Regions from separate parts of the Homo sapiens genome. Here region 1 is linked to region 2. The links come from fine-mapping of genetic effects on gene expression. A gene starts in region 2. The other region holds a variant in brackets. All regions are shown on one strand. Distances are between the middles of the regions. Region 1 overlaps TRPM6 (transient receptor potential cation channel subfamily M member 6). Region 2 holds the start of TRPM6 (transient receptor potential cation channel subfamily M member 6).

Region 1 (11,598 bases), 24 kb after region 2:
CTGGTGGCATTTGGGACACTTTTTATTTTATTTTATTTTATTTTATTTTTTGAGATGGAGTCTCGCTCTGTCGACCAGGCTGGAGTGCAGTGGCATGATCTCAGCTCACTGCAACCTCCACCTCCTGGGTTCAAATGATTCTCCTGCCTCAGCCTCCCGAGTAGCTGGGATTACAGGCATGCACCACCATGCCCAGCTAATTTTTGTATTTTCAGTAGAGATGGGGTTTCATCATGTTGGCCAGGCTGGTCTCAAACTCCTGACCTCAGGTGATCCACCTGCCTCGGCCTCCCTAAGTGTTGGGATTACAGGCGTGAGCCACCACACCCGGCGGGACACTTTTTTGTTTTATTTATTTTAATTAGAATAACATGAGGTGTCAAAGTTTTTTTTTTTTTTGCGGAGTCTCGCTCTGTCAGGCTGGAGTACAGGGGTGCAATCTCAGCCTACTGCAACCTCTGTCTCCCGGATTCAAGTGATTCTCCTGCCTCAGCCTCCTGAGTAGCTGGGATTACAGGCCTGTGCCACCATGCCCAGCTAATTTTTTTTGTTTTTAATAGAGTTGGGGTTTCGCCATGTTGGCCAGGCTGGTCTGGAACTCCTGACCTCACGTGACCCTGTGCATCGGCCTCCCAAAGTGCTGGGATTACAGGCGTGAGCCACTGCGTCTGGCCATCAAAGTATTTTTTTTTAAATGAATGAATAAACCTATTATTCTTAGAGGTATCAATTTTTCTTTTCATTTGTTTCTTCCTTTCGAGGTTTCAATGTTTTAAAAGAGGTGGATAAACTGATAGGATGTATCCTGCCTATGGATTGTAAAGGGCTGGTTCCACACTTCGCAAGCTTCCCAAGGTCACTGAATTTAACGACATCTTCTGGAGGGTGGGTGTGGTAGGCATTAAAGTTGGCTGTAAGTTTAGAAATTGAATGCATTCCAAACTACCCTTGAAAAGTCCCTTTCATTGAGCATAAAATACAGTACATGAAGATTTTATCTTGTGTTGGAACTTTCTTCAGTTGAGTACCAGATTAAACAGGGGATCTAGAATCTACTCATTAAGATGAGGTATGCAGACTAAGATATGCATGTGGGAACTGAGACCATCTGGGGAATGGTATATTCTTGCTCTCACAGACTCCACTCTAGTGTCTACACACAGTCACTTGTGTGCAGTAGTTCTCTGTATGTGGTCCAAGGACTCCTAGAGGTCTCTAAGACCTTTTCAGAGGGTCCTCAGAGTCAAAATTATTTTCATAATGGTACTAAGATGCTATTTGCCCTTTTGACATATTTTCTCATGAGTGTACAGTGGAGTTTTCCCAAGGGTACATGATGAATACACAATGATCTAAAAAGGCCATTAAAATACTCTCCCTTTTCAACTACATGTCTCTGTGAGGCAGATTTTCTTTGTATACTTCAAGCAAAACCACTTATTGCAAAGGATTGAGTGCAGAAGCAAACATGAGAATTTAGCCATCTTTAGCCAGACATGAAAGAGATTTGCAAAAACATAAGACAGTGCTCTGTTTATGAACTTTTTTGGAAAATTTTTGTGTTAGCATGTAACAGGTTAAAATGAACTAATAAGTAAATATTTTTAAATGTCTCAGTTTTAATTTCATATGTGGTAAATATTGGTAGACATAATTTAAATAAACAAAATACTTTTTGGAGTACTTGGTAGTTTTTATGATTATGAAAGGATCCTAAGCTCAAGAAGTTTCAGAACTGCTGCTTTTGGAAATAAGATACTCCTGAGGCTGGATGCGGTGGCTCACGCCTGTAATCCCTGCACTTTGGGAGACTGAGGTGGGTGTATCACCTGAGGTCAGGAGTTCAAGACCAGCCTGGCCAACATGGTAAAACCCTGTCTCTACTGAAAATACAAAATTAGCCGGGTGTGGTGGGGCATGCCTGTAATCCCAGCTACTCAAGAGGCTGAGGCAGGAGAATCGCTTGAATCTGGGAGGTTGAGGTTGCAGTGAGCCGAGATCACGCCATTGCACTCTAGCCTGGGCAACAAGAGTGAAACTCTGTCTCAAAAACAAAAAAACAAAAAACAAAAAACCCCCCCAAAAAAATCAAACCTACTGATAGTGGAATGACAGTGAAACTGCCCACACTATTAAAACTGTTTTTCTCTCTGTCTTATTTTTCACCTTCTAGCCTTCTCTCATTCTTTTAGCAAAGCTTTTGAATTTGTCTAAGTTACACACGTGGTATGAGTGTCCCCCAAATTTTAAGGAGCAAAATCCAGTTGTGTCTTCTTTGTGCTGTGCTATACTGAAAAAAATAAGACAAATAATCTCCATTGTCTATATAAACCTTACTATGAATGTCATAAATAAAATTTAACCTGTAACTTCTTTTTAAAAATGTTTCTATTTTTTATATTATTGGACGTAGACACGGGGTCTCGATATGTTGCCCAGGCTGGCCTTGATCTCCTGGGCTCAATGATTCTCTAGCCATGGCCTCCCAAAGTGCTGGGATTCTAGGCGTGAGCCACCATGCCTGGCCAAACATGTAACTTCTAATAAAGGCTTTATTGTCTGAGAGGTTGGTAAGTTTCCTAAAAGTCAATTATTTAACAGTATATTTTCCCCAGTCATGGTGGTACATATCTGTAGTCCCAGATTCTCAGGGGGCTGAGGCAGGAATATCACTTGATCCTAGGAGTTCAAGGCCACAGTGTGCTGTGATCACGCCTGTGAATAGCCACTGCACTTCAGCCTGGGCAACATAGCAAGACTCTGTATTAAAACAAAAATAAAAGCATAGTTTCATGAGCCACTCCAAAAAAGACTTTATTTTAGGTCATGTAGTTTATTTGCATGTAGTACTAGTAAAGTTTTGGATAATTTAACAAGATATTTGGAGCATAAATGAAGACCATCTGTGTACATAGATAACAAATTTGTGAGCATTTTGGAGCTTGGAAATTGGAGAGAATTGAGTGCATGTAGGTGGAAAATCTAACCAGATTAGAGTGGTTGTACTACAAATAGGCCCAGCATTTGGTTAAATCTCTGTATTTTACTATCGAGGGACAGTTGTAAAGTACACTCATAAAGGAGACTTCCATTTCCTCTTCCCTTTTTATCAGAATGATTTAACAAGATCTGAAATTATAAATGTTTCATTTGCATGTTTTATTCCCCAGGAGACTGGTTAAACCCTGAAGCGTGAGTGACAACTGAGGAAAAGGATGTCTTTCGCTGCTATTTTGAAATTGGGTTTTGGGGCTGAAATAATGAGGGCTTCAACCAATTTGGAAAGAGGAAGGAAGGGGTATGATATCACTTCACTTTTCACCTTTCTGATGCACTTTACTTGGAAGGTTACTGTTGAGTTCCTCTAATCCCCTATTTGGCTCCAGGAAGATTTATAAATGTTTTACTCCTTAACTCTTGAGTTTATATAATCTAGAAATTCATTCTGACGTTCCATTTTTTTTTTTTTTTTGAGAGGGAATTTCTCTCTCATTGCCCAGGCTGGAGTGCAGTGGCACGATCTCAGCCCACTGCAACTTCCACCTCCTGGGTTCAAGCGATTCTCTTGCCTCAGCCTCCTGAGTAGCTGGGATTACAGGCGCCCACGACTGCGCGTGGCTAATTTTTTGTATTTTTAGTAGAGACAGGGTTTCATCATGTTGGCCAGGCTGGTCTCGAACTCCTGACCTCAGGTGATCCACCCACCTCAGCCTCCCAAAGTACAGGGATTCAGGCATGAGCCACTGCACCAGGCCTCATTCCAAGGTTCTAAATGCCTTTGCTTAGCAAAGCACTATGTGAAAATGTTAGTAAAATTTCTCAACTACTCAGGAGAAATGGCGTTTTAGGGAATTGTGAATTATTTAGTTGACATTCAATTTTTAGAGATGTTACCAAAAATAAATTACTACCAGCTAAATAGTGCTCACCTTTTACCACCAAAGTGAGATGAAGGTGTAAGGTTACTTTGTGTTCTCTGCCTCCTGGACAGACTATTTAGTGGAAAATCAGTCAACACACTTTCTGGTAGTGTTGGTGGAACAGGAACTTGGTTTTTAGATATTTTTAGCCTGGATGCTGTTTTTCTGAGACTGCCCCTCTCGGATCAAGTGTCAGGTAGGTATCCTTGCAGAATTTGGACAGATAGAAGGCCCTGAGCTGACACTTGAAAGTGGATGGGCTGGCTTTGCACTGATGGATTCCCTGAGCCAACAGATTGATTGATGGTACATCCTGATGTCCATCTACCTGGCACTTTGAAGGGATTCTTGCTTCAAGGGAGGCACTCTGAAGAAAAAATAACAAATGTTGATCTGGAGTCTGAAAATATTGTCTATTTGACCCATTCTAGTGTTGTGAATTCCAAGATAAATAAAATAATGCTCTCTTTTGAAGTGGATTACAATAAGGTTAAGAGAGAGAGAGAGATGGTCCAGTGAATGCAAGTAAACATTGTTAGTGCTGTGATGTGTGTAAGAGAGAATGCAGGAAATCAAAATCGGAGTCAGTTATCAGTTCCACTGAAGAAGTAGTTGTTAGATGATAGATTTTTTTTAAGGTGCAAAAAAGTTGTAGAAAGAAAACAAATGACCTGTTATCTTTGTCTCCCTTTACCTCCAATCATGCAAACTTGTGGATGTTTTTTTAAAAAAAAAAAGGTTGCCGGGCGCGGTGGCTCATGCCTGTAATCCCAGCACTTTGGGAGGCCGAGTTGGGCGGATAACAAGGTCAGGAGTTCGAGACCACCCTGGCTAACACGGTGAAACCCCATCTCTACCAAAAATACAAAAAAAAATTAGCCGGGCGTAGGTGGTGCATGCCTGTAGTCCCAGCTACTCAGGAGGCTGAGGCAGGAGAATGGCGTAAAACCCGGGAGGCGGAGCTCGCAGTGAGCCGAGATCGCGCCATTGCACTCCAGCCTGGGAGACAGAGCGAGACTCCGTCTCAAAAAAAAAGTCACTTTTTTGAAGATTAAGGAACATCTGTGAAATTATGCCTTCTCAGAGAGTACCCCAAGATAATTTATCTGGGAACCCTAAAAAGCCATAAAGTGGAAATACAGTTTGAACATCCCTACTCTGAAAATCTGAAATGTGAAATGCTCTAAAATCTGAAACTTTTTGAGTGCCATAAGCGGGAAATTTCACATCTGACTTCATGTGGCAGGTGGCAGTTGAAATGCAGTTAAAACTTTGTTTCAGTCATGCACAGTGGCTCACGCCTGTAATCCTAGCACTTTGGGAGGCCGAGGCGGGTGGATCACTTGAGGTCAGGAGTTTGAGACCAGCCTGGCCAACATGGTGAAACCCCATCTCTACTAAAAATACAAAAATTAGCTCGATGTGGTGGCAGGAACCTGTAATCCCAGCTACTTGGGAGACTGAGGCAGGAGAATCACTTGAACCTGGGAGGCAGAGGTTGCAGTGAGCCGAGATCGTGCCATTGCACTCCAGTCTGGGCAACGAGAGAAACTCCGTCTCAAAAAAACAAAACAAAACCAAACAAAAAACAAAACAAAACAAAAAAACTTTGTTTCATGCATAAAACTATTTATTTATTTATTTAGAGACAGAGTCCTGTTCTGTCACCCAGGCTGGAGTGCAGTGGCATGATCTCGGCTCACTGCAACCTCTGCCTCCTGGGTTCAAGTGATTCTCATGCCTCAGCCTCCTGAGTAACTGGGACTATAGGCGCCCGACACCACGTCAGCTAATTTTTGTATCTTTAGTAGAGATGGGGTTTTGCCATGTTGTCCAGGCTGGTCTCGAACTCCTGACCTCAAGTGACTTGCTCGCCTTGGCCTCCCAAAGTGCCGGGATTACAGGCGTGAGCCACCACACCCGGACAATTTTATGTATAAATTTTTAAAAAATATTGTGTAAAATTACCTTTTGTCTGTGCATATAAGATGTATATGAAACATAAATGAATTTCACATTCAGACTTGGATCCCTCCCCAAGGTATCTCACTATGTTAGTCTGTGAACATTTCTTTGCAATTCCCCAGCCTGACCTCAGGCCAAAGATTAGATATAAAATCTGATTATGTTTTAGGATGACACAAATTGAGACCAACACACCATTTCCCTTCTTTCTCCTTTGCCTTTCCCTCCCCTAAATTACAACAATTAAAAAGCAAAAAACATCCAGTCGATGAAGACTGCCATGATAGCTGCAGAAATGTCAAAATCCTTACTCTCAACTACCACGACCACAACAAATTTGCTGCTCTAGTGGCAGAAGCTAGCACACTTGGTGTTTGTCCTATCAGAACCAACAAACATTTGGTTCTCTGTTGAACTGAACATGGAGGCCTCTCGGAAGTGTGCTGGAGAGTATATTGCAAAGGAACTATTACGAGGTTGGCAGGGTGGGAAGTAAAGTTCTAAATTGAGAATTATTTGAAACATTTTCAAGCTAAAGGCTGCTTTTTTTTTTTTTTTTTTTTTCTGGTAGTTTTGAGATAAGATAACCGGAGTTGAAGGAGGAAAGTTTCCACATTCTTGTTATGACACGGGCTTCCTGTTTACACCTTTGGAGGGAAAATAGTATACATGGGTTCCTGAAGTTCT[A/G]TTTTCAGCATGTTTGTTGCTCATTCAACAATCATTGGGTTAGGCCCTGGGGCAATAGAAATGACTGGCATGGGGCCTATAGGAGTTGGAGTCCAGGGAAGATGTGAGCCTGTAAAGGTCATTAAATCATAGTATGAGAGGAACTGTGAGGGAAATTTGGAGGTCAGGAGGCATTATTCTATGAAAAAAAAAATACATCAAAGTTAAGTTCCCAGACCATTAACCCAAAGCCAGTTTTTACTTTTAATATTGCTAGTAATAATACCTGAGCTTTATTCAGACTTAATAAGTCCCAGGAAGAATTCTAAACCTTTATCTAATCCTTTCAATAGTTCTATGAGGTACTATTATTATCCCCATTTTGATAGACAAACAGGCATGAAGAAATCGAATAATTTGTTCAGGTAGTCCTACTACAAAGCTGCCATTCAGCATTTTGAAAGAAGTGAATGGTTGAGCACAGCTTGCCTATTTTGTCTATACAGGCTTCTACATTAGATACCCTTTTAGCATCTGTTTTTAATAGTTAATTGGCCTTGAACTTGTCCCAGAGGCATGAAAAATACAAAAAATTAAAAAAATAGTTAATTGGTGCACATAAAGTTTAATGATATCAGTTTCTTATCTGTTTCCTCCTTTTTATTCTAACTTCCTTGAGAGCAGGAACTTTGTCTCGTTTGCAATAGAAGTCCCAGCATGCAGCGTGGGGGCCTATTCAAAATATTTGTTGAATGAATTCATAGATTCAGGTATTTTGAAATTCAGAATGAAGAATTCTTTGAGGACATACTGACTTTTTGTAACATGTTTGTCAGTGCTTTGCAAAAATTAGGTATTTAATAAATGTTTGGAGAATGAATAAATGAAATTGTTAACGTTTTTGAATAGGGGACAGGGCTGACTGATTCAAAAAGATAGTGTCATTTCTTTCTTTCTTTCTTTCTTTTTTTTGTGACAAGGTCTCACTCTGTCGCCCAGGCTAGAGTGCAGTGGCACAATCATGGCTCACTGCAGCCTCGACTTCCTTGGGCTTAAGCAATCCTCCCACCTCAGCCTTCTGGGTTGCTGGGAATTATAGGCACATGCCACCATGCACGGCTGTTTTTATTCCTGTATTTTGTAGAGACAGGGTTTCACCATGTTGCCCAGGCTGGTCTGGAAGTCCTGGGCTCAAGTGATCCACCTGCCTCGGCCTCACAAAGTGCTGGGATTACAGGTGTTGGCCACTGCGCTCAGCCGGATTGTGTCATTTCTTATTGAAATATAGATTTTGAATTCCCTGTTCATTTAGTTCCTTTTAAGTTCTGTGATTCTGGGTTGGGTGTGGTGGCTCATGCCTGTTATCCCAGCACTTTGGGAGGCCAAGGCAAGCAGACAACTTGAGTTCAGGAGTTTGAGACCAGTCTGACCAACGTGGTGAAACCCTGTTGCTACTAAAAATACAAAAATTAGCCAGGCATGCTGGTGCATGCCTATCATCCCACCTACTCAGGAGGCTGAGGCAGGAGAATCGCTTGAAACCTAGAGGCAGTGGTTTCAGTGAGCCGAGATTGCGCCAGATTGCAGTGAGCCAGGCTGGAATGCCTGGGCAACAGAGCAAGACTCCGTCTCAAAAAAAATAAAAAAATAAAAATAAATAAATAAATAAATAATTACATTGTATGACTGGGTTTTCCCAAGTTTTTTAGTGTTTTGCCAATTTAGTGAATGTCTTTTAATACATAGAAAATGCTGCTGAGCATGCAAAAAGAATAAGAGAGTAAAATGATTTAAGATGACTCTGGCCTTGATCTGGGAAGTTTTCCTTGTTTATAGGTAAGATTTAAATACACAGGAACCCATCAACTAATCTCTGTTTTTCTCCTTTCTATTTTACTTAAAAAAGTCTGGACTTCCATTATCTACAGTTCTGTTCAGTGATGAACACTTACGTTTAGGATTGGTGCATGTTGGACAAGATCCACTGAGCTTTTTTTGAGGATAGTGTGATAATGAGGTACCACAGCTGGATTTGTAGCATATTTTCTGGCCCAGTGCATTTCCTTCCACAGTAGAATGGGAGTAGATATGAGTGAGGTGGGGACTGCACTGACGTGGAGTTTGAAAAAGCTCCCTTTTAGAAAGCCTTCCTTTCATCTCTGTTCTAATATCTATGTGTGTATAAAGTAATATGGACACATATTCTTTTTTTTTTTTTTTTGAGACAGAGTCTCGCTCTGCCACCCAGGCCAGAGTGCAGTGGTGCAATCTCGGCTCACTGCAATCTCTGCCTGCCAGGTTCAAGCGATTCTCATGCCTCAGCCTCCTGAGTAGCTGGGATTATAGTTGCCTGCCACCATGCCCAGCTAATTTTTTGTATTTTTAGTAGAGACGGGGTTTCACCATGATGGCCAGGCTGGTCTCGAACTCCTGACTTCAAGTGGTCCACCCGCCTTGGCCTCCCAAAGTGTTGGGATTACAGGCATGAGCCACCACGCCCAGCTAGGACACGTATTCTTATACCATTTACAGCCAAAATATTTTTATATTAGAACTACTCACAAGTAGCTGGGATGTATAGTCCATCCAGTGTCCTCTGCCACTGGACTTGTAATATAGCTTATGGAGGAGCTTGGCTATGATATGGATTCTGTAGAATGGGAGAGAGTTTATTAGGAGGAAGAGTGAGTATCAACATCTCACTTGGATTTAGGGACAGTTCTAGGCTGTGCAACCTGAAACAACACACCCAATGGTAAAACTATGCTTGCAGAATGTGTATCGAATCTTGCTGAGTCACATCTCTTCTCTGACACTCTTTCCAGCTTCCTGTGAAATCTTAGCCAAAGTGGGACTTGATGGGTAAAAATTTTGAAGTTTCGGGAGCTTGGTATTTATTCCATAGGATTATGGTACAAGATATAAAAGTGACTTTTGGCAGATTTAAGAGGATATATCAGTTACATCTTTACTTCCTTGCTAGGGGTTTGTTCATGTAGGGCTTTTGTTACTCAAAGTGAGATTATGGGCATATTCACTTTGCGTGTCGTTTAATGTTCACATTTGGCTTATTTGTGCCTATGTTATCTGTAATAGAAACTGGTAAATGCTTAGCCTGTGTGGGGTTGGTCTTGGCATTTTAATTAGCATTCATGATACTTGAGTATTTCTTACCTGCAGGAACTACTATGGTTACATTGTTTTGTCACATAATTAGAGTATAAAATAATGACACTTTCTTTTTAGTCCCAGAAATCCTGGATTAAAGGAGTATTTGACAAGAGAGAATGTAGCACAATCATACCCAGCTCAAAAAATCCTCACAGGTAAAATTTTCAATTACCTTCTTCTTTTAAAAGCAACACTACCTGATGGACTATTTATAGAAACTTAGAAATATGACTTGTTTAGAAGTTTTGATCATATCTATAAAGTTAGAATTTTCAATGTTTATTTCTTTCACTTTATAAAAATAATACATGATTATTGTAGAAAATCTGGGAAGAACAGGGACCTTGTCCATTTTTACCTTACTCTTACTCCAGTGTCTGTGACAGTGCCTGCCACATAGTAGGCTCTTGATAAATATCTGTGTTTTTGTTTTTTTGAGACGAAGTCTCGCTCTTGTCCTCCAGGCTGGAGTGCAGTGGCGCAATCTCAGCTCACTGCAACCTCCACCTCCTGGGTTCAAGTGATTCTCCTGCCTCAACCTCCCGAGTAGCTGGGATTACAGGCACCTGCCACCACGTCCGGCTAATTTTAGTATTTTTAGTAGAGACAGGGTTTCACCGTGTTAGCCAGGATGGTCTCAATCTCCTGACCTCGTGATCCACCCACCTCGGCCTCCCAAAGTGCTGGGATTACAGGCGTGAGCCACCGAGCGATAAATATCTGTTTAAGGAATTTAATGAAGTACAAAGAAGTTATTCTTAATGCCGTCACTGTTAATATTGTCGTGGATTTCATTCTACTTGATTCTTCTGTTCCTCTTGATGGGAGGATAGACGTTACAGAAATATCTAGTGTTACATCCATTTCAGTGGGTTGGAATCAATAAATTACATTTTCTGAATACTGAATATTCAAAATATTGTGAATGTTTCTTATCCCCAACTAAAGTATCTGTGGAAAATAGTGACTGGTATATTTAAGTACACTGTGCCCAGATTAGATGAACAGGTAATTTCAGTTCCGTTTTCCTTCCATAGACTTTATTTTTATGGAATGCTTTATGAATTTGCATGTCATCCTTGAGCAGGGGCCATGCTAATCTTCTCTGTATCATTCCAATTTTAATATGTGTGCTACCGAAGTGAGCGCCCATAGGCTTTTGGATTGAGCAGATAATCGGTAGCAGAATGGAATAATTTGAGTTTGACTACTGAGTTCTTGACAATGCTTTGGAAGCTCTACTTGTAAAACAAAGGTCAAAAAAGCAACTAGTGAAAGATAGGGGAAGAAAGGGCTATGGAAAATTCCTCTGGGTAATCAGGTCTGTGAAATTAAGATTGACATTGCCCTTGGAAAAATTAATTAAAAGGAAAATAGAAGAGTAATATTTTAAGTAAAGGAACCAACCTATTTTTAGATTTTTTTGGGCATTTGTCCTTATATGCCTTTAAGGTTTAGAACTCATAACTATGTGTTATGAAGGGTAGCAAGGTAAGGTTTTTGAAATTCTAGTTCTTTGGAGATGACTGAAATAGTGTTCTTTGCCTTTGTTAAATATTTACTAGTCCCACCCTTATTGAATTACCTATGATTTGTAAGTCTTGTGATTGGAAATTCTCTTTTTACCTGCTTAAGAAAGGTTTATAGTATGCCAAGATAACCTTGTTTTTCCCCTTCATTTTTTATGACATCATGTGGTGGTGACTGCAATGGAATGCAAGTTGATTCAGGTGGCTCATTTTGTGTCTGTGAATAAAAAAATCATTTTTACAATAATCTTGAATCTCAAAAAAAAAGTGATGAAATTACTGAGTCTTTTACTAGCCCATAGACTCAAGAAGAGTATCAACGATTGTAATTCCATGAATGTTCCAAG
Region 2 (11,598 bases):
TGTGCTGAGCTACCTGGAGCTGGGTATGGAGTGATGTAAGCACCCTTGTGGCCACCACCACTGGGACTGCTCTGGGTCAGACCAGAAGCCAGCACAGCACTGGGTCTTGCCCGAGTCCCACTGTAACCACTACCTGGCTACTGCTTATGTTTACTCATGATCCTAGGGCTGTGCAATCAGCAGGTGATGAAGCCAGCCAGGGTTGTGTCCTTCCTTTCAGGGTGGTGAATTCCCCCAGGCCTTGGGTGGGTCCAGAGATGCTGACTGGCAGCTAGAGACTAGAGTCGAAAACCTTAGAAGTTTACCTGTTCTATTCTACTGTGGCTAAGCTGGGCCTCAAACCATGAGACACAGCCCTTCTCATTCTTCCTTCAACTTGCCACAGGCAGAGGAGCTTCATCCCATGGCCACCACCACCACAAGCCCATGAGGAGTATTGCCAGGTTACTGCTGATGTTCACTTAAGGCCCAAGGTCTCTGAAGTCAGCTTGTGGTGAACGCTGCCAGGCCTGGGACTCATACTTCAGGGCAGTGGGCTCTCCTCTGGTCCAGGGCAGGTCCAGAAATGCTGTCCAAGAGCCAAGGTCTGGAATTAGGGACCCCAAGAGCCTGCCTGGTGCTCAACCCTACTGTGGCTAGCTGGTGCCTAAGGTACAAGACAAAGTCCCCTTTACTTTTCCCTCTGCTTTTCTCAAGTAGATGGAGTCTCTCACTGTAGCTACCAGAGCTGGGAATGTGCTGGATCTCACCTGAAGCCAGCACCTCTCAGAGTCTCACCCAAGGTCCACGGCATACTGCCTAGGTATCACTGCTGGCTACTCAGGACCCAAACACTCTTTAGCCAGCAGGTGATGGTTCCTGCCAGGATTGGGTCCCTCCCTTCAAGGGAGTGGGTTCCTTTCTGGCCCAGGGTGTGTCTGGAAATGTCATCTGGGACCTAGGGCCTGGAATGGGGGCCTCATGACTCTGACCGGTGCCCTGTCTTACTGTGGTTGAGCTGGTATCCAAGGTGCAAGACAAAGCCCTCTTTACTCTTCCTTCTCCTCTCCTCAAGTGGAAGAAGGAGGTCTCTTTTGGCAGGAGCTGTGTTGCCTGGGGATGGGGGAGGGGTGGCACAAGCACCCCCTTAGCTGTCCTAGCTTGTGTCTCAGTAGGTAACACGCCCCCCAAGTCCACTTGGTCTGAGCCCAGCTCAGCACTAGGATTTACAGTTCCCGTGGCCTAAACTGCCTTTCAAGAATATTTAGAGCCTCAGAGCACTCCAGTCTGTGGTGTGGCGAGGCTTGCTGGAACTTGAGTTCTGACTGCTGGGATGGATGATTCCTCTCTATCTAGAGCTGGTCTAAATGTTCTCTCAGTGGGCAGGCGTTGGCTGAGTTCAGCCTGGTTTTGCTTTCTGCTGTGACAAGGCAGCACTGAGTTCAATGCAAAGCCTCACAACCGCTGCTTTCTCCCTCTCCCAATCACACAGATTTCTCCATGCCAAGTGGCTGCTGTGGATGGGTGGGGAAGGGGTAGCATCCACAATTCAATACTGACTTTCCTCTTATAGACTGTTGGTAGGAGTGTAAATTAGTTCAGCCATTGTGGAAAGCAGTGTGGTGGTTCCTCAAAGAGCTAAAAACAGAACAATCACTAAACCCAGCAACCCCATTACTGGGTATATACCCAAAGAAACATAAATTGTTGTGCCATAAAGACACATGCACACGTATGTTCACTCCAGCATTATTCACAATAGCAAAGACATAGAATCAACCTAAATCTCATCAATGGCAGATTGGATTTAAAAAGTGTGGTACATATACACCGGGGAATACCATACAGCCATAAAAAAGAACAAGATCATATATTTTGCAAGAAATGGATGGAGCTGGAGGCCATTATCCTTAGCAAATGCAGGAACAGAAAACCAGATATGGCATGTTCTCACTTACAAGCTCACTGTGAGCTAAATGATGAGAACACATGGACACAAAGAGGGAAGAACAGACCCTAGGGCCTCCTTGAGAGTGGAGGGTGGGATGAGGGAGAGGATCAGAAAAAATAACTATTGGCTATTGTTATGACATGACTTTACCTATAAAACAAACCTGCACTGTACCCCTGAACCTAAAATAAAAGTTAAAAATAAAAAAGACTCTCTTTCCTACCTCTTCAGTGCCTCTTCCAGTAATATGAAGTTAAAACCAGTTACTGTGAGTGCTCACCTGATTTTTGGTTCTTAGAAAGGTGCTTTTTTTGTGCGTACATAGTTGTTGAATTTGGTTTTCCTACAAAGGGGATGATCGGGGCCTTCTATTCCACCTTCTTGCTCCACCTCTTCCCAGTTTCATTTTTGATTGTTCATCTTCCTCTTATAAACTTGAGCTACTTGTAGACTGGACAATGTCTTATTCATCTTTGTTTTCCTGGTGCCCAGCATGATGCCTGACAAACAGTCTATGTTCAGGAAATATTTGTTGGCCTGAATCAAACCACACTAGACTACTAATGAATATTTTAAAATTTAATTTTCACAGCTACCCTGGGCATAGGTATGTTTGTGCCCAGAATAGTTTTCTTTTTATTTATTTATTTTTTGAGATATGGTCTTACTCTGTTGCCCAGTCTGGAGTGCAGTGGTGCCATCATAGCTCACTGCAGCCCCGACCTCCTGGGCTCAAGCAATCCTCTCACCTCAGCCATCCAAGTAGCTGGCACCACAAGTGTAAGCCACCACGCGTGGCTAATTTTTGTTTTTTTTTTTTGTACAGATGGGGTTTTGCCATGTTGACCAGGCTGGTCTCGAAATCATGAGTTCAAGTGATTCTCCTGCCTCGGCCTCCCTAAATGCTGGGATTACAGGCATGAGCCACCATGCCTGGACAAGAAGTTTTATATACAAGTTTGACAACTGATTAAAGTGCTTGTGAAAGATACAGATTCCTGGGCCCCACCCTATAAATCCTGATACAAGAGATCTGGGTAGGGTGGTTGGAGCCTGGGAATCTGCACTTTTGACAAATGCCTCAGATGTTTCTGATACAGCTTGGGAACCAAAGGCAGCTTGTAAACTAGTACATTCAATGCTTTAAGCACTTCACATTGCCCTTGTATTTCAGGCTCTAAATGCCTTGAAGCTTGATCTGAAAAGAATATATGATCATCCTAACATGTAGGTTTACCAAAGATGGTAAACTAGAAGATGGTAGACTTCTTACAAATCTTGAGTTCCAAATGGCTACTCTTCTTGGTGGGTCTGAAGATTTCTGAGAACTCTCTGACCCAGTCACTGTAAGAGACCTAACAAAGAAATTGTATGGAAGACAGAGATCGAGAAGGATTTACTTGCCTTAGAAGAGCTTTCAGAACCTGTTAACTGTTTACAGATTAACGCTTTAAAGAAGATGGGTTAAGGAGAGGAAAGGAGATTAAATGTGTTTATAGAAGAACAACAAATGCCTAGCACTTAGGGAGGCTGAAGTGGGTGGATTGCTTGAGTTCAGAAGTTCGAGACCAGCCTGGGCAACATGGTGAAACTCCGTATCTACAAAAATTACAAAAATTAGCCAGGTGTAGTGGCTTGCACATGTAGTCCTAGCTACTTGCGGGGGCTGAGGCTGGAGGATTGCTTGAGCCCAGGAGGTGGAGGTTGCAGTGAGCCGACATAGTGCCACTGCACTCCAGCCCGGTGACAGAGCGAGACCCTGGCTCAACAACAACAGCAACAACAACAAAAAGAAAAACAACAAAATGCCAATACACATATGAGAGATTACAATTTTCCAATAAACAAAGAAATGCTTATTAAAACCACATTGAGAAATGAGGGGAAAAAACCTGTAAACTGTCTGCAAATGTGAATTCACCAGGCAAAAATTCATAATAAACTAAATGAGTAGGTGTCCCTAATTTTAAGTCGGTTGTCAGGGATGAATGACTAGCATTGTTAATTACACTTGTAATAATGTGAGCATCATTTTGCCTGTGTGCTTTGTGCCACCTCTGCCAACACCCTGGGATCCACCCCAAATCACTGACCACAACCTTAATCAAGACTGCCTAGGCCGGGCATGGTGGCTCACGCCTGTAATCCTAGCACTCTGGAAGGCTGAGGCATGAAGATCGCTTGAGTCCAGAGTTTGAGACCAGCCTGGGCAACATAGTGAGACCCCATTTCTAAAATAAATAAATAAATAAATAAATAAATAAATAAATAAATAAATAAAATTAGCCAGGCACTGTGGTGTGTGCCTGTAGTCCCAACTACTCTCTGGAGCCTGAAGTGGAAGGATCACTTGAGCCTGGGAGGTCAAGGATGCAGTGAGCCATGATCCTGCCACTGCACTCCAGCCTGGGCAACAGAGCAAGACTCCATCTCTAAAAAAAGAAGAAAGAAAGAAAGAGAGAAAGAAAGAAAGAAAGAAAGAAAGAAAGAAAGAAAGAAAGAAAGAAAGAAAGAGAAGATGCCTATCCAGAGGAATCCACCAAAACAAAACAAAACAAACAAAAAAAATGAAAAAAAAACCAGAAATAACAAAACATTTGTATTGTATGTTACACATGAAGCACATTAAGTGATTTCCTTTGTTCATTGTAACCTTGTGAGGGAACTGGATTTTTGTCCCTATTATTCCCATTGCATAGATAAATAAACTGAGGCTTGACATGCCCAATAAGTCACAGGTAGTAAAAGCAGTGCGTTAGCTTAAATCTCTGATCTCCTCACGCCCCACACTGACTCAACAGTAACAATACATTACTACAAAGGATGTCTGTGATGACAGTGGCCATCCCATTTGATCCTCGTTATTCTTCTTTTATCGAAGGAAACTGAGAGTCACCTTCTTTTCTAGGCAGTTAGGTAACTGAAGCCGAAAGGTATTGTGACAGATCCACTGGGCTGTAAAAGGCAGCGTGTGGAGGTGGAGCCCAGAGTTTCTGCCTCCACAGTTAAAAGCTCAGACAGGGCTTTGGGAGCAGGGCCTGCAAATCAAAGATGAAAGAACAACCTGTCTTGGAGCGCTTGCAGGTAAGCTCAGGCTGCTCGACTGGCGGGGAACAAGGACCTTAGGCGATTCGCTAGATCTGCGCCCCCGGCCTTAGATAGAAGTGGGTGGGGCCAGGGACACTACATCTAACGAGGATCTAGAATAGCTAGGATTTATGAAATACCGGCTTTCAAGTTCTCTGGTCTCCACCCAAAGATGATTATCCTATCTAAGGTAGTGTACGCTACTACAGGGCAGGTCCCGCAGCCCCCGTTTCAAGAGCTGGGATGCGGCCATAGCGGAGGTGGTGTCAGAGCGGAAACCTAGCGGGGGTCGGGGGTTCAGCTCGGGGCGGTGGGAAACACCCCGGGAGAGGAGGCAGCTCTGATTCCGCTCCGGGCCGGAGGGAGAGGAGTTCGGAGGTGGCTTGAGCTGAGAATCCGGAGGAGAGAAGGCGCGTTTTGAGCTGCCACGGGCACAGATCTCAGACCCGGACGCTGACTAGCCGGGGGTCGCGGCTTTCCGAGGCGGCTGGAGAAGTGCCCAGACGGCCGTCCCTCCGCGCCCCTGCGCGTCCCCGTGCGCCCAGTGTTCCCCGTGCAGGAGTCCCGGAGCGATGACAGCGCCGGTTACGGTAAACACCCGCCCCGCCGCAGTCCGCTTCCTTCCCCAACGCGGCGCCGCCCGGACTTGCAACCTCAGGAGTCCCCGCTGGCTCCTCTCCACCGCTGGCATATGGCGCAACAGGAAGTTCTGGGGGCTTGGAGAGGGAGGGTGCTCCTGGCTGTTGGGAGAGCACTGGAGACGCTTGGGAGAGTAGTGGAGATCCTGGTAATTTCTTGGTCTCGCCTATTTTGTCTGGACTTTCTCACACTGTGTATGAAAAATAAGTATAATTGAGCACATTGTATTTCAGGAATAGTCCAGGCAGCTTAGCAAACGTTAGCTCATTTCAGCCTGCTCTGATAAGAACATATGCTCTGGAGCCAGGTAGCCTGAATTAGCATCCCAGCTGCATCACTACCTGTGATTTTGGGCGAGTTAACATCTGTTCTTCGGCTTTCTCATCTGGAAAATGGGATAATACGATTTGTAGTTTCAAGATGAATTGAAATGCTACATGCCATTTGCACTTAGAATAATGCCTGACGTATTTAGCAGGTTGTAAGAGTTTGGGATTCTTAACTATTTCATCCTGGCAGTAATCCTATAAAGTCCAAGTATCCTGTCTCTCCCATCTCCACCGGTTTACAGGTGAGGAAAATGAAACCAAAGGAGAAAAGCAGATTTGAGATTTGAACTCAGGTCAGTGCTTTAAGACACGGAGAACATAAAAAAGAAAAAAAAAAAAGAGAAAAAAAGACACTGAGAACATAGATGTTCTAGTCATACACATCATTTGTGATTATTTGTTCTAGGGAGAAATGATCACCTTTAATTGTTAAAGTGGGAAACGAGTTATTCAATTTCTTTCCCCCTGTATACAGATTTTGATGTTTCACTGTCATCTGCTTTGGGTTCTTACAGGACTGATAAAGCGTTAGCTATTTTGGCCAGACTGGAATCTGGGCTTGACTTTAAGAATCTGGTTGTTTCTTATGTTTCCCACCAGGAGTGGTAACCATCTAGGGTAGGAGTTAGCATGAGTTTTGTTTTTTGGGCCAAAACTGGAGACTAGTACCCTTTGGTAGTGTTAAACTTGTCTTGATAGACAAGGGCATGAATAGCATTTGAGATCATTATACCAGAGGTGAAGGGAAAGAATCGTGCAATATGTTGCAATTTGTCACAAATTTTGGTCTTATCTTGCCTATTTACAATTATCTATCATAGTTAATTTTTTGGATAGGACATCTATGCCAAAACTATCAAGCATTTGGTAAATACTGTGCCTGAAATATGGCTTCTCTCTTTTTCCTTCTTTTTCAAATTTCTCACTTTTTATTTTATTTTATTTTTTTGAGACAGAGTCTCGCTGTGTTGCCCAGACTGGTCTTGAACTCCTGGGCTCAAGCAATCCTCTTTGGCCTCCCAAAGTGCCAAGATTACAGGCCTGAGCCACTGTGCCTGGCCTCACTGTGTTTTAAATCATGAGTTTTCAGTATAAACAGCCCAAATAATCTGAGTGATTTTCATTATACTTCTGGTAGAATCAATACCATGCTGGAACTGAAAGTGACCATCCTACCTATAACTCAGTTATTCCTTTGTGACACATCAGAAGTCTACATGGCAACTATTTTCTGTAAAATCCATCACTGTTAGGTAAGATATTATGATGTGAGTCTCACTAGTGCCTTTTTTCTTTACTTCTTAGTTTTATTGAAGTTTTACGTTCTCATTGTTCAGAATCAATTAATTCCATAGGGTTAATATCTAAAAACAGTAGAACCCTCCATCACTTCCTGCTTTTTAAGAGAAGTAATCATGTTCATCTCTTTTAACTAGTTACTATTTGTCTGTATCTCTAGATATTCCTTATAATTGCTCCTTCTTGGTTTTTGAGGTTTAGTCATCATGCATTGACTTTCCTGCAAGAAATGTGTGGATTTAACTCTTTTCTGTTTTCCTGCCACTACCACTTACATGCATCCTACCTATTCCTTCCATAGATCCTCTGAATATAGTTATCTCATAATTTTTGGTTAGGTCAATATTTAGTTAGGTCAACATTATTATGCCTCCCTACATGCTATTAAAAGCTTTCTTCCTTGTTTTTTTCCAGAGTTGTCTCTCTGTGTTTGCAAAGTTTTCACCAATTTAACCACAAGTTCTTTGTTAGTTGTCTAAATCTTCCCTCAAGATGTCCAATGCAACAGCTATTTGAATCAATTTTATTTCTATCACAGCTTTCTTACCTGCTTTGCCAGTCCAGACTGGTTGCTCTTGATGTTTGATGCACAGCTATTACCTTGGGCTCTCTCTTCACCATCATTTGGGGACTGATTCACTTTGCATCTCTGTTATGCTGGCTCCTGTTTCCTATATCCCACACCTTAGTCTTTTTTGATTTCTTCTATCATTTTGATGGAGCACATTCTCCAGTAGCTTTCTAAGAAAAGGTACATGTAAGGTAAACAGAATTGAATATGTTTTTTTCCTTGATTGTGTATCACAGAAAATAATTCTCCAGATGTTTTTCCCTTAAAAACTTTGTCACTAACAATATAAAAATAATTTCTTGTTGTAAATAATTCAAATACTACAAATAGAAATCCAAATAGAAAGTTCCCTTTCTACCCCTCAACTACTCCCCCTCTGACCCAGAGGTAATCAAACTGTTGATTTGGAGCATATTATTTAGATGTGCTTTTATATACGTATGTATGTATGTATGTATGTATGTATGTATGTATGTATATATGTATTTATTTTTGAGACAGAGTCTCGCTCTGTCTCCCAGGCTGGAGTGCAGTGGCACGATCTCAGCTCAGTGCAAGCTCCGCCTGCTGGGTTCACACCATTCTCCTGCCTCAGCCTCCCGAGTAGCTGGGACTACAGGCACCCGCCACCACGCCCGGCTCATTTTTTGTATTTTTAGTCGAGACGGGGTTTCACCTGTTATGCAGGATGGTCTTGATTTCTTGACCTCGTGATCTGCCCACCTCAGCCTCCCAGAGTGCTGGGATTATAGGTGTGAGCCACTGTGCCTGGCCATACATATGTATTTATTATTTTGATTTGTGCATTTATTTATTTATTTACTTTATTTTTTGAGATGGAGTTTTGCTCTTGTTGCCCAGGCTGGAGTGCAATGGCACAATCTTGGCTCACCACAACCTCTGCGTCCCAGGTTCAAGCGATTCTCCTGCCTCAGCCTCCCAAGTAGCTGGGATTACAGGCATGTGCCACCATGCCCAGCTAATTTTGTACTTTTAGTAGAGACAGGGTTTCTCCATGTTGGTCAGGATGGTCTCGAACTCCCGACCTCAGGTGATCCACCCACCTCGGCCTTCCAAAGTGCTGGGATTACAGGCATGAGCCACTGCACCCGATCTATTTATTTTAATTTAATTTTATTTTATTGAGATGGAATCTTACTATGTTGCCCACGCTAGTCTTGAACTCCTGAGCTCAAAGGATCCTCTTACCTCAACCTCTCAAGTATCTGGGATTACAGGCACATGACACCGTGCCTGGCTTTGCATGTGTTTTTAAATAAATTGAATCATATTGTATATATTGATCTGTAACTTGTTTCACTTAACAGTAGTTCCTGTAGATTTTTCCATGTCAATACACATTAGTGCCTTCTTGAATAGTATGTTCAGATGAACTGGAGTGATCAAGATCATAGGTATAGCATTTTCTCTTCACAATCAGTCACAAATACTGACCGAGTGTTATGTGCCAAACTGTCTTCCAGAATCTGGGAATATACAGTGAATAAAACTTTTATTTTTGAGATAGAAAGGGATAGTGAGATGCTTCTCGATGAAACTGAGCTCAGTTTCAGCTTTAATTTGGTTTTCCTTTCCTAGAGTGCAAATATACAATCACATCTCTTTTTCTCTTGGTATAAAATCACAATCATTAAAAATTGAGCTAAATACCTGTTGTGCCACCAGACCAACAGAACAATACCACTGACATAGAAATAGATTTTCTGGATGGATAAACAAAATATGGCATATATACACAAGGGAATATTATTCAGCCTTAAAATGGAGGGAAATTCTGACACATGCTACAACATGGATGAACCTTGAGGACATAATGCTAAGTAAAATAAACCAGTCACAAAAAGATAAATACTGTATGATTCCACTTATGAGGCATCTATAGAAATCAAATTCATACAAACAAAAAGTGGAATTATGGTTGGCAGGGCTAGGGGAGGGGAAATGTTTAGTTGTTTAATGGGTATAGAGTTTCAGTTTTTCGAGATGAAAAAGTTCTGGAGATTGGCCGCACAACAATGTGAATATACTTAGCAAAACTGAGCTACACACTTAAAAATGGTTAGGATGGTAAATTTTACATTATATATTTTACCACAATTAAAACAAAAATGGAAAAAGAGATTCTCACACAGACTCCTTTGTAGTGGGCTTTGTCTTATACTTTGAATAGGTGGTTGAATCTGCTTTCAGCTGGATGAATACTCAGTAGTGGGAATGCAGGATTGAATGGTAATTCCATTTTTAGTTTTTGGAGGAACCTCCATTACTGTTTTCCATAACGGCTGTACTAAATTACATTCCTATCAACAGTGTATGAGGGTCTCCTTTCTCTGCATCCTTGCCAGTATTTGTTAATTTTTGTCTTCTTTATGATAACCATTTTAACTGGAGCGAGATGATATCTCATTGTGGTTTTGATTTGCATTTTACTGCTGATTAGTGATGTTGAGCATATTTTCATATGCATGTTGGCTGTTTGTATGTATTCGTTTGAGAAACGTTGATTCATGTCCTTTGCCCACTCTTCAGTGGGCTTATTTGTTTTGTGTTTACTGTTGAGTTGTTTGAGTTCTTTTAATATTCTGGATATTAGTCCCCTGTCAAATAAATAGTTTGCAGATATTTTCTCCAACTCAACAGATTGTCTCTTCATTTTGTTGATTGTTTCCTTCACTGTGCAGAAACTTTTTAGTTTAACATGGTCTCATTTGTGTATTTTTGTTTCTCTTTTTTCTTTTTAACCAACCAAGAAGCACTGAATCAGTTGTGTACTTTTGTTTTTGTTGTCTGTGCTTATGAGGTCTTAGCTGCAAAATCTTTGCTTAGATCAATGTCCTGAAGTGTTTCCGTTATATTTTCTTCTAGTATCTTTATAGTTGAAGTCTTGCATTTATGTCTTTAATGCATCTTGAGTTGATTTTTGTATATGGTGAGAGATAGGAGTTCAGTTTCATTCTGCTGCATATAAATATCCAGTTTTCCCAGCATGATTTATTGAAGATGATGTCCTGTAACCAATGTATGTTCTTGATGCCTTTGTCAAAATTCAGTTAGCTGTAAAAATGTGGAATTACTTCTGTGTTCTCTATTTTGTTCAATGGTCTATGTGTCTTTTTATACCAATAGCATGCTGTTTTGGTTACTATAGCTATAAGAATACTTTTGTACAGTTTCCAAAGTTCCTCTTATTATTGATTTCTAGTTTTACTTTATCTTGTGGTCTGAGAAGATACATGATATGATTTTGATTTTTAAAAATTAGTTGAGATGTGTTTTGTGTTTTACCATATAGTCTATTCTGGAGAATGTTCCACATGCTGATAAAAATGTGTATTCTGGAACTGTTGGATGAGATGTTCTGTCAATATTTATTAGGTCCATTTGGTCTAAAGTACAATTTAAATATTATTTTAATTTTCTGTTTAGATAATCTGTGTAATGCTGAGAGTGGGGTGTTGAAGTCCCCAACCGTTACTGTATTGGAGTCTATTTGTTCTGTTTGATCGAATAATATTTGCTTTATATATTGGGGTGCATGCTTTGTTAGGTGCATATATGTTTAGAATTGTTATACTTTCTTGCTGAATTGATTGCCTTATATAATTATAATTATATAATTACATTTTTTGTCTCTTTTAACTTTTTTTTTACTTAAAGTTTGTTTCATCTGATATAAGTATAGTTATTTATGCTTGCGTTTGGTTTCTGTTTGCGTGGAATAT

Evidence for each region. PIP is the estimated chance that this variant, and not a neighbour inherited with it, causes the effect.
Region 1: its variant is fine-mapped to the expression of TRPM6 in whole blood (TOPMed, PIP above 0.99).

The regions. Positions count from the first base shown.
Region 1 is chr9:74,856,948-74,868,545 of GRCh38, reverse strand. TRPM6 (transient receptor potential cation channel subfamily M member 6) reads left to right here. Exons shown (of 39, transcript NM_017662.5): 2 at 9,798-9,877. It also overlaps the pseudogene RNU6-445P. Among named protein-coding and RNA genes, the nearest start is that of TRPM6, 25 kb to the left of the region's middle. The variant A/G (reference allele first, on the strand shown) is at 6,573.
Region 2 is chr9:74,881,240-74,892,837 of GRCh38, reverse strand. It overlaps TRPM6 (transient receptor potential cation channel subfamily M member 6), which reads left to right and starts at 4,917. Exons shown (of 39, transcript NM_017662.5): 1 at 4,917-5,014. The coding sequence starts at 4,982. RefSeq lists an enhancer at 5,531-5,825.